Linked DNA regions of Homo sapiens: region 2 is linked to region 1. The links come from fine-mapping of genetic effects on gene expression. A gene starts in region 1. The other region holds a variant in brackets. All regions are shown on one strand. Distances are between the middles of the regions.

Evidence for each region. PIP is the estimated chance that this variant, and not a neighbour inherited with it, causes the effect.
Region 2: its variant is the best candidate, but not a certain one, in a credible set for the expression of ZNF205 in skeletal muscle (GTEx, PIP 0.69).

Annotation. Positions count from the first base shown.
Region 1 is chr16:3,109,805-3,115,166 of GRCh38, forward strand. ZNF205 (zinc finger protein 205) reads left to right here and starts at 2,782. Exons shown (of 7, transcript NM_001042428.2): 1 at 2,782-2,878; 2 at 3,613-3,683. The coding sequence starts at 3,627. ZNF205-AS1 (ZNF205 antisense RNA 1) reads right to left here. Exons shown (of 3, transcript NR_024167.1): 1 at 5,164-5,362; 2 at 4,991-5,078; 3 at 656-1,150. RefSeq lists an enhancer at 3,717-4,305.
Region 2 is chr16:3,140,771-3,146,132 of GRCh38, forward strand. It overlaps ZNF213 (zinc finger protein 213), which reads left to right. Exons shown (of 6, transcript NM_004220.3): 6 at 1-2,034. The coding sequence ends at 577. It also overlaps the pseudogene CASP16P. Among named protein-coding and RNA genes, the nearest start is that of TRR-CCG1-3, 7.2 kb to the right of the region's middle. The variant C/T (reference allele first, on the strand shown) is at 2,658.

The sequences.
Region 1 (5,362 bases):
CTCAGCTCTCCTCCTGGTTGGCAGAGTGAAGAGTGTCATGATTTCCAGGACCCCTCCCCGCTTCAGCTTTCAGTTCATCGCTCACTCTGGCTTGAAAACAGTACTGACTTGTTAAGTTGCATGTCTCTCTTCGCCTTGAGGCTTAAAACACCTAGAAGCCGGGTGTGGTGGCTCGCACCTGTGGTCCCAGCTACTGAGCAGGCTGAGGCGGGAGACTTGCTTGAAGCCAGGAGTCCGAGACCAGCCTGGGTGATATAGCGAGACCACATCTCTAAAAAATCAAAAACAAAAACAGAACACCTGGCCAGGCACAGTGGCTCAGCCTATAATCCCAGCACTTTGGGAGGCAGAGGTGGGTGGATTGCTTGAACCCAGGAGTTCGAGACCAGCCTGGCCAACATGATGAAACCCTGTCTCTACTAAACATACAAAAATTAGCTGGCCGCGGTGGCACACTCCTGTAATCCCAGCTACCTGGGAGGCTGAGACAGAAGAATCGTTTGAACCCAGGAGGTGGGGGTTGGAATGAGCCGAAATGGTGCCATTGCACTTCAGCCTGGATGACAGAGCGAGACTCTGTCTCAGAAAAACAAAAACAAAACAAAACAACAACAAAATCCCAAAACCAGAACACCTGGAAAACACCAGACACAAATCCCAGGAGTAATTTTTCTTTCATCAAATTGACAATAGCATCAATCAGAATCCCAGGACTCCTAAAACATGTTTAACTCCAAAAGCAGAGTTGCAAACTCAAATGCTACAGGGGCCAAGCAGGCACTGTGGCCACCTAGAAAGTGGACCCTGAAGGTGGGGAAGGTGGGTCCAGCATCGGTAAATGTTCTAATTTTTTTTAAAGAATCAATTTTATAGGCTGGGCGCGGTGGCTCACGCCTGTAATCCCAGCATTTTAGGAGGCTGAGGTGGGCGGATCACCTGAGGTCAGGAGTTCCAGACCAGCCTGACCGACATGGAGAAACCCCATCTCTACTAAAAACACAAAATTAGCCAGGTGTGGTGGCACATGCCTGTAATCCCAGGTAATCAGGAGGCTGAGGCAGGAGAATCGCTTGAACCCAGGAGGCGGAGGTTGGGGTGAGCTGAGATTGCGCCATTGCACTCCAGCATGGGAAGAAGAGCGAAACTCCGTCTAAAAAAATAAAAGAATCAGTTTTATGAGTGTCAATTTTTTAATGTTAGAAACTAAGTTAAAAAAAAAACAAAATTAGCTGGGCGCGGTGGCTCACGCCTGTAATCCCAGCACTTTGGGAGGCCAAGGCAGGTGGATCACTCAAGGTCAGGAGTTCGAGACCAGACTAGCCAACACGGTGAAACCCCGTCTCTACTGAAAATACAAAAATTAGCCCGGCATGGTGATGGGCACCTGTAATCTCAAATACTTGGGAAGCTGAGGCAGGAGAATCACTTGAACCAGGGAGGTGGAGGTTGCAGTGAGCCAAGACCACGCCATTGCACTCCAGTCTGGGCCACAGAGTGAGACTTCATTTCAAAAAAAAAAAAAAAAAAATTAAACCCTCTGGGCATGATGGCTCACACCTGTAATCCCAGCACTTTGGGAGGTGGGAGGATTGCTTGAGATCAGGAGTTCAAGACCATCCTGGGTAACAAAGCAAGACCCCCATCTCTACAAAAAAATTTAAAAAATTAGCCAGGCATGGTGGCATGCGCCTGTGGCCCCAGCTACTTGGGAGGTTGAGGTGAATTGCTTGAGTCCAGGAGGTTGAGGGTACAGTGAGCTATGATCGTGCCACTGCACTTCAGCCTGGGTAACAGAGCAAGACCCTGTCTCAAATAAGTAAATAAATAAACAAACAAACCCTTAAAAGCCCACACAACATAGCACGAGCTGGTACAGAGGCAGCTGGGCCCATCTTACTGTGTGAAGCTGTGCACCTCAGGGGATTCTGGTGAGCCAAAGACAGTGGCATGGGGACGTTTCCTAGGGAAACTTCCTGGAATCTGATTCCAGGACTGGGCCCCTGGCCCTTTTCCTGACACCCAGCCCCCATGCCTGCCCAAGAGAAATGGTTCCTTCCCCCAGAAAGTAAAGCACAGTCTCTGTCCTCTCTATTTGAGGCCTTACTTCTCAGGGTCTAAAGGGAAATGGTGCCTGAGAGGCAGAATCTGCAGCTGCCAGGCGTGTTTGAGAACTTAGAACCCCATTTATAGCTGGATCACACCCTCTATCCCCAAGCTGAAATGGGCCTGGAAGAATCGGATTAACCAACTTCTTCCCAAGGTGTGGGGCATCCGGATTGGGGGGAGTTCCCAGCCTGTTTCCCAAGTTCACTCTTAGGGAGAGAGTTCTGTGCCAGTCTTGGGGGGACCCAGAGGGCCCTTGACTAGGAGTCCCTAAATGAATTCAGGGTCCCTCAGGAGACAATAACCTTCAGAAACCCCGAGTGCTAAAATAAATGGTCCTGCCCTCTCCACCCTGCAAAATGCCCTTCTTTCTACCTGTGAGGACAACTGCAGTGCTCGCTTTGAAATTTCAAATAACACAATCTTTCCACAAAATGCATCTTCCATTTTTCTGTTTTGGTGGCTCTGCCTTGCTGGCATCATGAACGCGTCCTGGGTAAAGCCATCCTCATGAGCTGGCATTGCGGCTCTGGGAGTCACCTCCCGGCCAAGAGCAGGTGCAACCCAGGCTCGAGACTCCACACCCGGAACCCTCAAAACCGGGAACGCTGTAGGGCTGCGGCTGCATGGGGAATGGGATCTGGGAGGGACTTCCTGTCTTCCCTACTCCCAGTCTCCACCCAACTCCCCCGCCCGCCCCGTGCAGGCTGTGGAGACTCCCTTCCCGGGGGAGGGGGCCCCCACTGCCGCAGGTGCCCCCTCTGCCTCCACCCCGGTGAGAAGGGGGTGCTGGGGAGGGCATCTGGATCCCGAGACCGGCGCAGATGATCAGCTTGCAGGAGGGGATGGGGTCAAAGGTGGAAGGCTTCAAGCTGGCAGGAGAGAAGGGGGCCAGGACCGGGTTTGGGAAGGAGAAGGACATTGTCTGCCAGGACCGAGAGCAGGATGGGCATCCCAGGCCTGGGGCAGGTGGTTGCAGCTGCAGGGGGGCTGCTGAGAGCGGGCAGGTTGATTTCTGAATTCCTGGTGGGCATGGGAGTCAGGTAGGGACACACGGTGTATGTCCTGGGGTCGGGGGACAGCAGGTCCTGGATTACCCTGGCCTTGACGGGCGGGGCCCCACCAGCACCTGTTCTGCAGGATCTCTGCAGAACTTTCTGCTCCTGATGACAGGAAATAGCGATTCCAATTTAGCCTCGGCTTTCCCTGAGCCGGTTACACTGAGATGCGAGGCTCTTGCTTCAGCAATAAAGGGGACAATACAAAATAGCATTCTTTCAAAAATAGGACCCAGAAAACATCACAGAGAGTGGGACCATCGGATAGGATCTGGGAGACTTTCTTTCCGATTGGGACCAGGGAGCGCTGGTACTCGTGGGGATTTTCAGGGCTCTTTGGGGGTGTCCAGGAAGCGAGGGCTGGTTTCTGTCTGCTCTTCTAGGCTCCTGGCCAGAAGCTGGAGGGGGCTTGGCCAAAAAGAGGGAGAAACAACTCAGCTGTTCTTTCTAGCTCTGAAATAGAAAATGTCTGCAGACGGCGGAGGCATCCAGGACACCCAGGACAAGGAGACACCCCCGGAGGTACAGATGGGGCTGGCTGAGGGAGGTGTGCGGTAGAAGAGGCTGGTGCGGAGGAGATTTTCAAGGCACAGAGTCTGGACCCCTGGAAGAGTTAGACTCACTGGGGTGGGGAGATCAAAGAGAAGGTGGCATGCTGGGTAGTACCCTCTGTCTGGAATTTACAGCATAACAGTTTTGCTTTGCTGGTGAATTCTCTAGCCAGTGGCCACAGGAGATGGAAGAGGTCTGGGTGGAGGTCCTATCAGTGAGGTTTTCTTTCTGAGCAGCGCTCAGAGCACACAGGGAAACCTGTTCTCCTTCCCCGTGCTTCTCCACCTGGAACCACAGCTTCTCATCTCTGTGGGTCTGAGCTCCCGGTCCTTTCTCCTTCCTGTACCTGCTACCCGTGTGTGTGTGCGTGCGTGGTTGAGTGTGTGTGTGTAATTACTATTTGTGGGGGACCTGGGTCTCCGGGCTTGGAGTTGGAGGAGTATGAGTCAGCGACAGGCCAGGGGCCAGTCCCTGGCCTCTGGGAACCAGATGTGTCATCTGTAAAATGCAGACCACATGCCTGCCATTTCCACCTGTCTCGCAGGGTCACTGGGAGGCTCTAAGGATAATAGGCATGAGACGCCATCATCTATGGTTTTCATGCCATAGAAGCACAAAGAATTGTTAGCATGGTTCAGTTTCCCATCCACTTCCCGTGTGCCTTGAACACCTTGGGCATGTCAGTAGAGCCCCACATGTTGGCATTCTCTGCTGGCACTGGCTTCTGTCTGGTGCGCACGGCGGGGGGGATTAATGACCAGCGCCACCCTGTGTTTATCCAGGACTTTCCTGAGCTGGCAGCTCCTTCTCCATCATTATCTGCGTGAACCTCATGACCATTCTGTGCAGGGGCAGAGCAGCTGCGTCCTGAAGGCTGCCTGATTGGGGAGGGGTGTCGCTGGGTCTGGCACCCAGGCACTCTGATTCCTGGCCTGAGGTTCTTTCCCTTCAAGACCCAAACACAGACAGGGCGTGGAGGAAGGAGTGTGAGACCCCAGCAGAAGTCCGGCCAGTTCCTGTGCTGTGGATGAGGCCCCACCAGGGCCCTCCCTGACTTTCCCAAAGCTTTTGAGCTATGTGGTCACGGGGCATTGTCTCATCCCCAGCCATGGTGTGTTAGTCTCCCGTGGCTGCTGTAACAAGTTTCCACTCTCTGGGGGGCTGAAAACAACCAGAATTGGCTCTCTCACAGTCCTGGAGGCCTGCAGTCCAAAATCTAGGTGTCAGCAGGGTCACACTCCTTTTGAAAGCTCTAGACTAAGAGGACCCTCCCTTACCTCTTCCAACTCCTTGGGGGCTCCTGGTGTCCTTGGTGTGGGCATCCCTCCAGTCTCTGCTTCCTTCTCTGTGTCTCTGTGTCCTCTCCTATTCTTATAAGGACATAAGTCATTGTTAGATTTTAGGCTCACTCTAAATTCACGATGATTTAATCTCAAGATCTTTAACTTACCTGTATAAAGACCCTTTTCCCCAATAAGGTCCCATTCTGAGGTCCAGGGAGGACACGGATTCTTAGAGGACACTATTCAAGCCACTACACTTGGTTTCTTCATACACTAATAGACAGCAGTCTACACTGCTGAGGTCAGTGTGAGGCTGGAGCTGAGAAGGGGTAGCTGCCCTTGGGCACCACGCCCACCGGCACTGTG
Region 2 (5,362 bases), 31 kb after region 1:
GACTGTGTCCTGGAGCCCCGAGGAGGCTGAGGCCTGGGAGAGCGAGAACCGGCCGAGGGCGGCCCTGGGCCCAGTGGTGGGCGCGCGACGGGGGCGGCCACCCACTCGCCGGCGCCAGTTCCGGGACCTGGCAGCCGAGAAGCCGCACAGCTGCGGGCAGTGTGGAAAGCGCTTCCGCTGGGGCTCGGACCTGGCGCGGCACCAGCGCACGCACACGGGCGAGAAGCCACACAAGTGCCCTGAGTGCGACAAGAGCTTCCGCAGCTCCTCGGACCTGGTGCGCCACCAAGGCGTGCACACGGGCGAGAAGCCCTTCTCCTGTTCCGAGTGCGGCAAGAGCTTCAGCCGCAGCGCCTACCTGGCCGACCACCAGCGCATACACACGGGCGAGAAGCCTTTCGGCTGCAGCGACTGCGGCAAGAGCTTCTCGCTGCGCTCCTACCTGCTGGACCATCGGCGTGTGCACACCGGTGAGCGGCCCTTCGGCTGCGGAGAGTGCGACAAGAGCTTCAAGCAGCGCGCGCACCTCATCGCGCATCAGAGCCTGCACGCCAAGATGGCCCAGCCCGTGGGGTGAGCAGCTGGCTTGGCCGGAAACCCGGGGGAGGCCCAGCCACGGCACATCCTGCTTTGTTCACCACTGGGACTCTCCTTCCATCTGTGGCCACCTCCCGGGCTGTCCGAGGGACCCCAGGGTACCTCACACTCGGAGCTCGCCTGCCCTGCTTGGCTCTGAGGACCTGCCCAGCGCTCAAAGGGAACGGAAGCCTTCCCCTCCCGCCCCCGATCTTGTCCTCTTTCCCCCTTCTGCGCCTAGCGTTCCTCTTCCCCTCTAGTTTCCTGGAGCCCCAACACATTCCTGGCAGGGACAGCAGGGTGGCAAGGACTCAGGTCTAGGTCCCTTCCCAGAAGCCCCCGAGCCTCATTTGACTGTGTGGCTCTTTGGCCCCCACCCTGTGGGGTGGGTCCATGGGTCAGGCCTCTGCCCTACCAACCTGTGCCTTTCAGTGGGCGTGGAGGACTGGCCTTGGCCCCCCAGGGGGCTGCTGGACTTTGGGAGAGACAGCCCACACCTGTGGGACCGCGGGTCTTAGTCACGGCGGCAGGGGCTTTCTGGCCCCCTCCCACTCCCGTTTCCAGGCCATGACCACTCTGCCCTGTCCTGGCCATACGGACTCGGCCTGCCTTTGCCCTCGGCCTACTTGCCCTAGCATGAGGCTCTGAGAGCCACCTGCCCACCAATCTGGTGAGGATAATGGTGGCTCCAGCGACAGGAGGCCAACCCTGGAGACCAAGAACAGGGCGCCTGGCTGCCATCTTTTCCTCCAGAGGTGGGGCTGCACCAGACTCAGCACTAGCACTCCATCAGCACTAGCACCTCACTCCATCAGCACTAGCACCTCACTCCATCGGCCCCGGCACCCTGCTCCATCGGCACTGGCGCCCTGCTCCATCGGCACTAATGCTCCACTCGGCGCCCCACTCCATCGGCCCCGCTCCATCGGCACTAATGCCCCACTCGGCGCCCCACTCCATCAGCACTAATGCTCCACTCCATTGGCACTAACGCCCCAACTCCAGCGGCACTAATGACCCGCTCCTTTGACATTGGTGCCCCACTCCATCAGCACTAACGCCCTGCTCCATCGGCACTGGTGTCCCACTCCATTGTCACTAACGTCCGGCTCCATCGGCACTACCACCCCGCTCCATCATCACTATGTCCAGCTCCGTCGGCACTACCACCCTGCTCCATCATCACTACGTCCAGCTCCAACGGCACTGGTGCCCCATTCCATCGGCACTAACGCCCCGCTCCACCGGCACCAGTGCCTCGCTCCATTGGCACCAACGCCCAGCTCCACCGGTACTGGCTCCCTGCTCCATCGGCACTAACGCCCTGCTTCATTGGCACTTTGCTGCTGCCTCCTGAGCACTGCCTTCCATGAACAGGGACAGACCAGAGGCCCTGCAAGGACTCCCCCTCAGACCTCCAAAGGGCAACAGAAGAGTATTAATAAACGTGAAAACTTACCTCCAGGCTGTTCTGTTCTTTCGGTAGCTGGAGGGTGGGGATACCTGGAATATATGCCCCTTGCCCTGGCCTTGTGTCCTGGTGGCACATGCTGCTGCACCGTGACCAGGCGGAGCTGCGTCCTTGGCGTCCAGGTCGGCTGGGCCCCAATGGGCAGCCGTGTCCCCTGGGACTCTTGTCCCCCTGTGTCAGCTAGTGCCTGCCCTGCTCTGGGAGCACCGTCGGTGCTCCAGCAGAACGGGGAGCTGAGCAGGACTCAGGGTCTTCACCAGGCCACTCCTCTCCCACAACTGTGAAAGGAAGAAGGGCCCATAGACGCTGCTTGGTCAGTGGTGGGACCCTCTTGCTGCGTGTTGGGGATCTGGAACTCAAGGCTGCCCCAGGCTGAGTCCCTTGGAGGAGGGGCTGACAGCGGGCTTGCCCTTCCCACCAGCCCCTGACATCCAACTTCTCCCTACCAGGAGCCCCAGGCCGGGACCCACCAAGGGCTGGTGGGTGCGTGGTCAAAACTAGTGATCATCCAGGCACGACCCCTCCTTCCACCCATGCTGGTTCCTTCTCTTTCACCTGCTAGTGGCCTCAGGGCCCCTGGCTGAGGGGAGGCGGGGGCCGGTGGACAAGA[C/T]GCTCTGGTCCCTTGGTAACAGGTGTGCATGTGCCAGCCCTCTCTGCCCCTAGGCCTTTCTTAGCCAACCTTCCATGCACACATCATCCTGCGGTCACTGTCATGGTCTCCGTTTCCCGTAAGAAGCAAGCAAGGTCTCGCTGTGGACAAGGCTGATTCCAGTTGGTGATTTTTACCTCTGGGGGCCTGGTGCTGTGTGCATGCGTGTGGCGGGTGGCCGGGATGGTACAAGGACTTCTTGGTGGCGGTGGCTGGCTCCAAATGGAGACACTCGGGTGTAACGAGATCAGATAAGCACGTAGGCCAGGAGCTAAGAATAGGATTGAGCACAGGTTCCTGGCTCGGGTAGGGGCATGTCAGTGCCAGCAAAGAAGTCACCAGCAGGAGCCAGAGAATGAAGCCCAGGCTGGGAGAGCGGGGCCAGGACCCAGGGTTCCAGGGATGGGGCAGAGTCCAGCTCAGCTCATAAGCAGAGCTGATAGTACTCGTTAGGGTAGAGGGCAAGGGTTAGGACCCAGGGCACTGAGAGCCCAGGGCCAGGAGGTGAGCTCCGAGCTTGGTGCTTGGAGGAAGCCCCGTCTCGCCCTATGGCCTTCCTGGTGGCTGGGACCCTGCGGCTGGCCACGCAGATGGCAGACACTCGAGACAGCCTGGGGAGAAAGGTAGCAGGAGGCACCGCCTAGCCCAGCTGCTCCTGCCTCCCTGCTGAGCCCCAGCCCAGCCCAGCCCAGCCCAGCTCTGGCCTTGCCTCCCCAGGGGAAGTATGACGTCCAGGGTCCAAGGGCAGCCCTGATGCTCAGCAGCCCTGGGGTGGCGGCCGCTGTAGTCACTGCCCTGGAGGACGTGTTCCAGGCCCTGGGCTTTGAGAGCTGCGAGAGGAGGGAGGTCCCGGTCCAGGTGAGCCTCTGCCTCTTACATCCACCCTCAGGCCCAGCACCGACCCCTTCCCCACTCTCCCCTGACCCAGAATCTCCTCCCCACCCAAAACCTCCCCGGACTCAGGTCGGTCTCACTCTTGCCCCTAGGGCTTCCTCGAGGAACTGGCTTGGTTCCAGGAGCAGCTGGATGCCCACGGGCGCCCTGTGGGGTGTGCCTTAGTGGCCTTGATGCCCCCAGAGGGCAGCTGAGGCAGCCACAGCAGCTGGTCCGGGAGCTGAGCGGCTGCCGGGCCCTGCGGGGCTGCCCCAAAGTCTTCCTGCTGCTCTCAAGTGGTCCTGGGTGTGAGTGAGCTGGGTCAGGATCCAGGAGCTGGGCAGGGACCCAGGGGCAGAGCCTCGGGCCTCACTGCAGGCCAACATGCTGCTTCTCTACCCAGCCTCCCTGGAGCCCGGAGCCTTCCTTGCTGGCCTGAGAGAGCTGTGTGGCCGCTCTCCTCACTGGTCCCTGGTGCAGCTGCTGACGAAGGTGGGGACGCTGGAGGGGGAGGCCCAGGGAAGCGGGGCTGGTCCTGCTGTCTCCGCTGGTTCTGCTGTGCCCCCCTAAGCCAGTTACAGTTAGATTCATTCACTTGTATCCTCCCTCCGATTCATTCTACAAACCTCCTTTATTTTCTACAGAAGTGGTCTCAGCCCCTCACCCTCAACTCGGGACCCCTGACAACCCACTCAGGATCCCCGACACTCGACTCCTCCCAGCTCCATGCCTTGGCCCAAGCAGTTCCCTCTGCCTGCTATGCCTTCCTGTTGTCCCGGGAGCCCTGCACAGTCCTCTGCAGGCTGCCAGCGATGCCCTTCCTTGCATCCACGCTTGCACTTCAGGCTGCCCCTTTCTACACCAAGCAGTGGCTGTCCGCCCTGTTAGATCGCAGGACCCTGGAGGCTGGGACTGGGAATGCTTCAAGTCTGGTCTCCAAGGCTGAAGGTCTCACTGTGTAGTTGGGTGGCCCCTGGGCAGCCCTGGGGATGAGGGGGCCCCAGCTCTCCTCCACAGATCGCCCAGCAGGGTAGTGCCCACCCCGTGAGTCTTCCCGACAGGCCCAGCCCCGCTCTAGGGAACATCCCCACCTCTCTGCGCACTGATCCCGGGGCAGGGGTTAATGGTGTGGCCACTGTCCACTCGAGGCCATCCATGCCCAGGGAAGTCCATAACCTTGAGCCTGAACTGGAGCCTGGGCCCTGCTTGAGGCCATCCTGCCTGTCTGTCCTTTGCTGGCCTCCTCCTGTCTGCATTCTGGCAGGTGACCCTGAAGAGACTATAGAAGCCACAAGCCTGGCTGAGTCTTTTCTCGGCCCCATCCCCAGCTCTTCCGCAGGGTGGCTGAAGAGTCCGCAGGGGGCACCTGCTGCCCCGTCCTTCGGAGCTCCTTGAGGGGGGCACTGTGCCTGGGAGGCGTGGAGCCCTGGAGGCCTGAGGTGAGGGGGGCAGGGCAGGGATCCAATCACATGGCCACAGTTTCCAGTGGGACAGAAGCTTAGGGGGGGCCCCGGCCGGGGAGGCCAGGAGCTGGAGTCCTCTCAGGCCACTTTAGATGTGTCTTAACCCTCTCTGCAGCCGGCCCCCGGTCCCAGCACACAGTATGACCTGTCCAAGGCCAGGGCTGCCCTCCTCCTGGCTGTGATCCAAGGCCGGCCTGGGGCCCAGCATGACGTGGAGGCGCTGGGGGGCCTGTGCTGGGCCCTGGGCTTTGAGACCACCGTGAGAACGGACCCTACAGCCCAGGTGAGGGGAAGCCGAGAACTTCCACTGGTGCTCTGAAGGAAGACCAC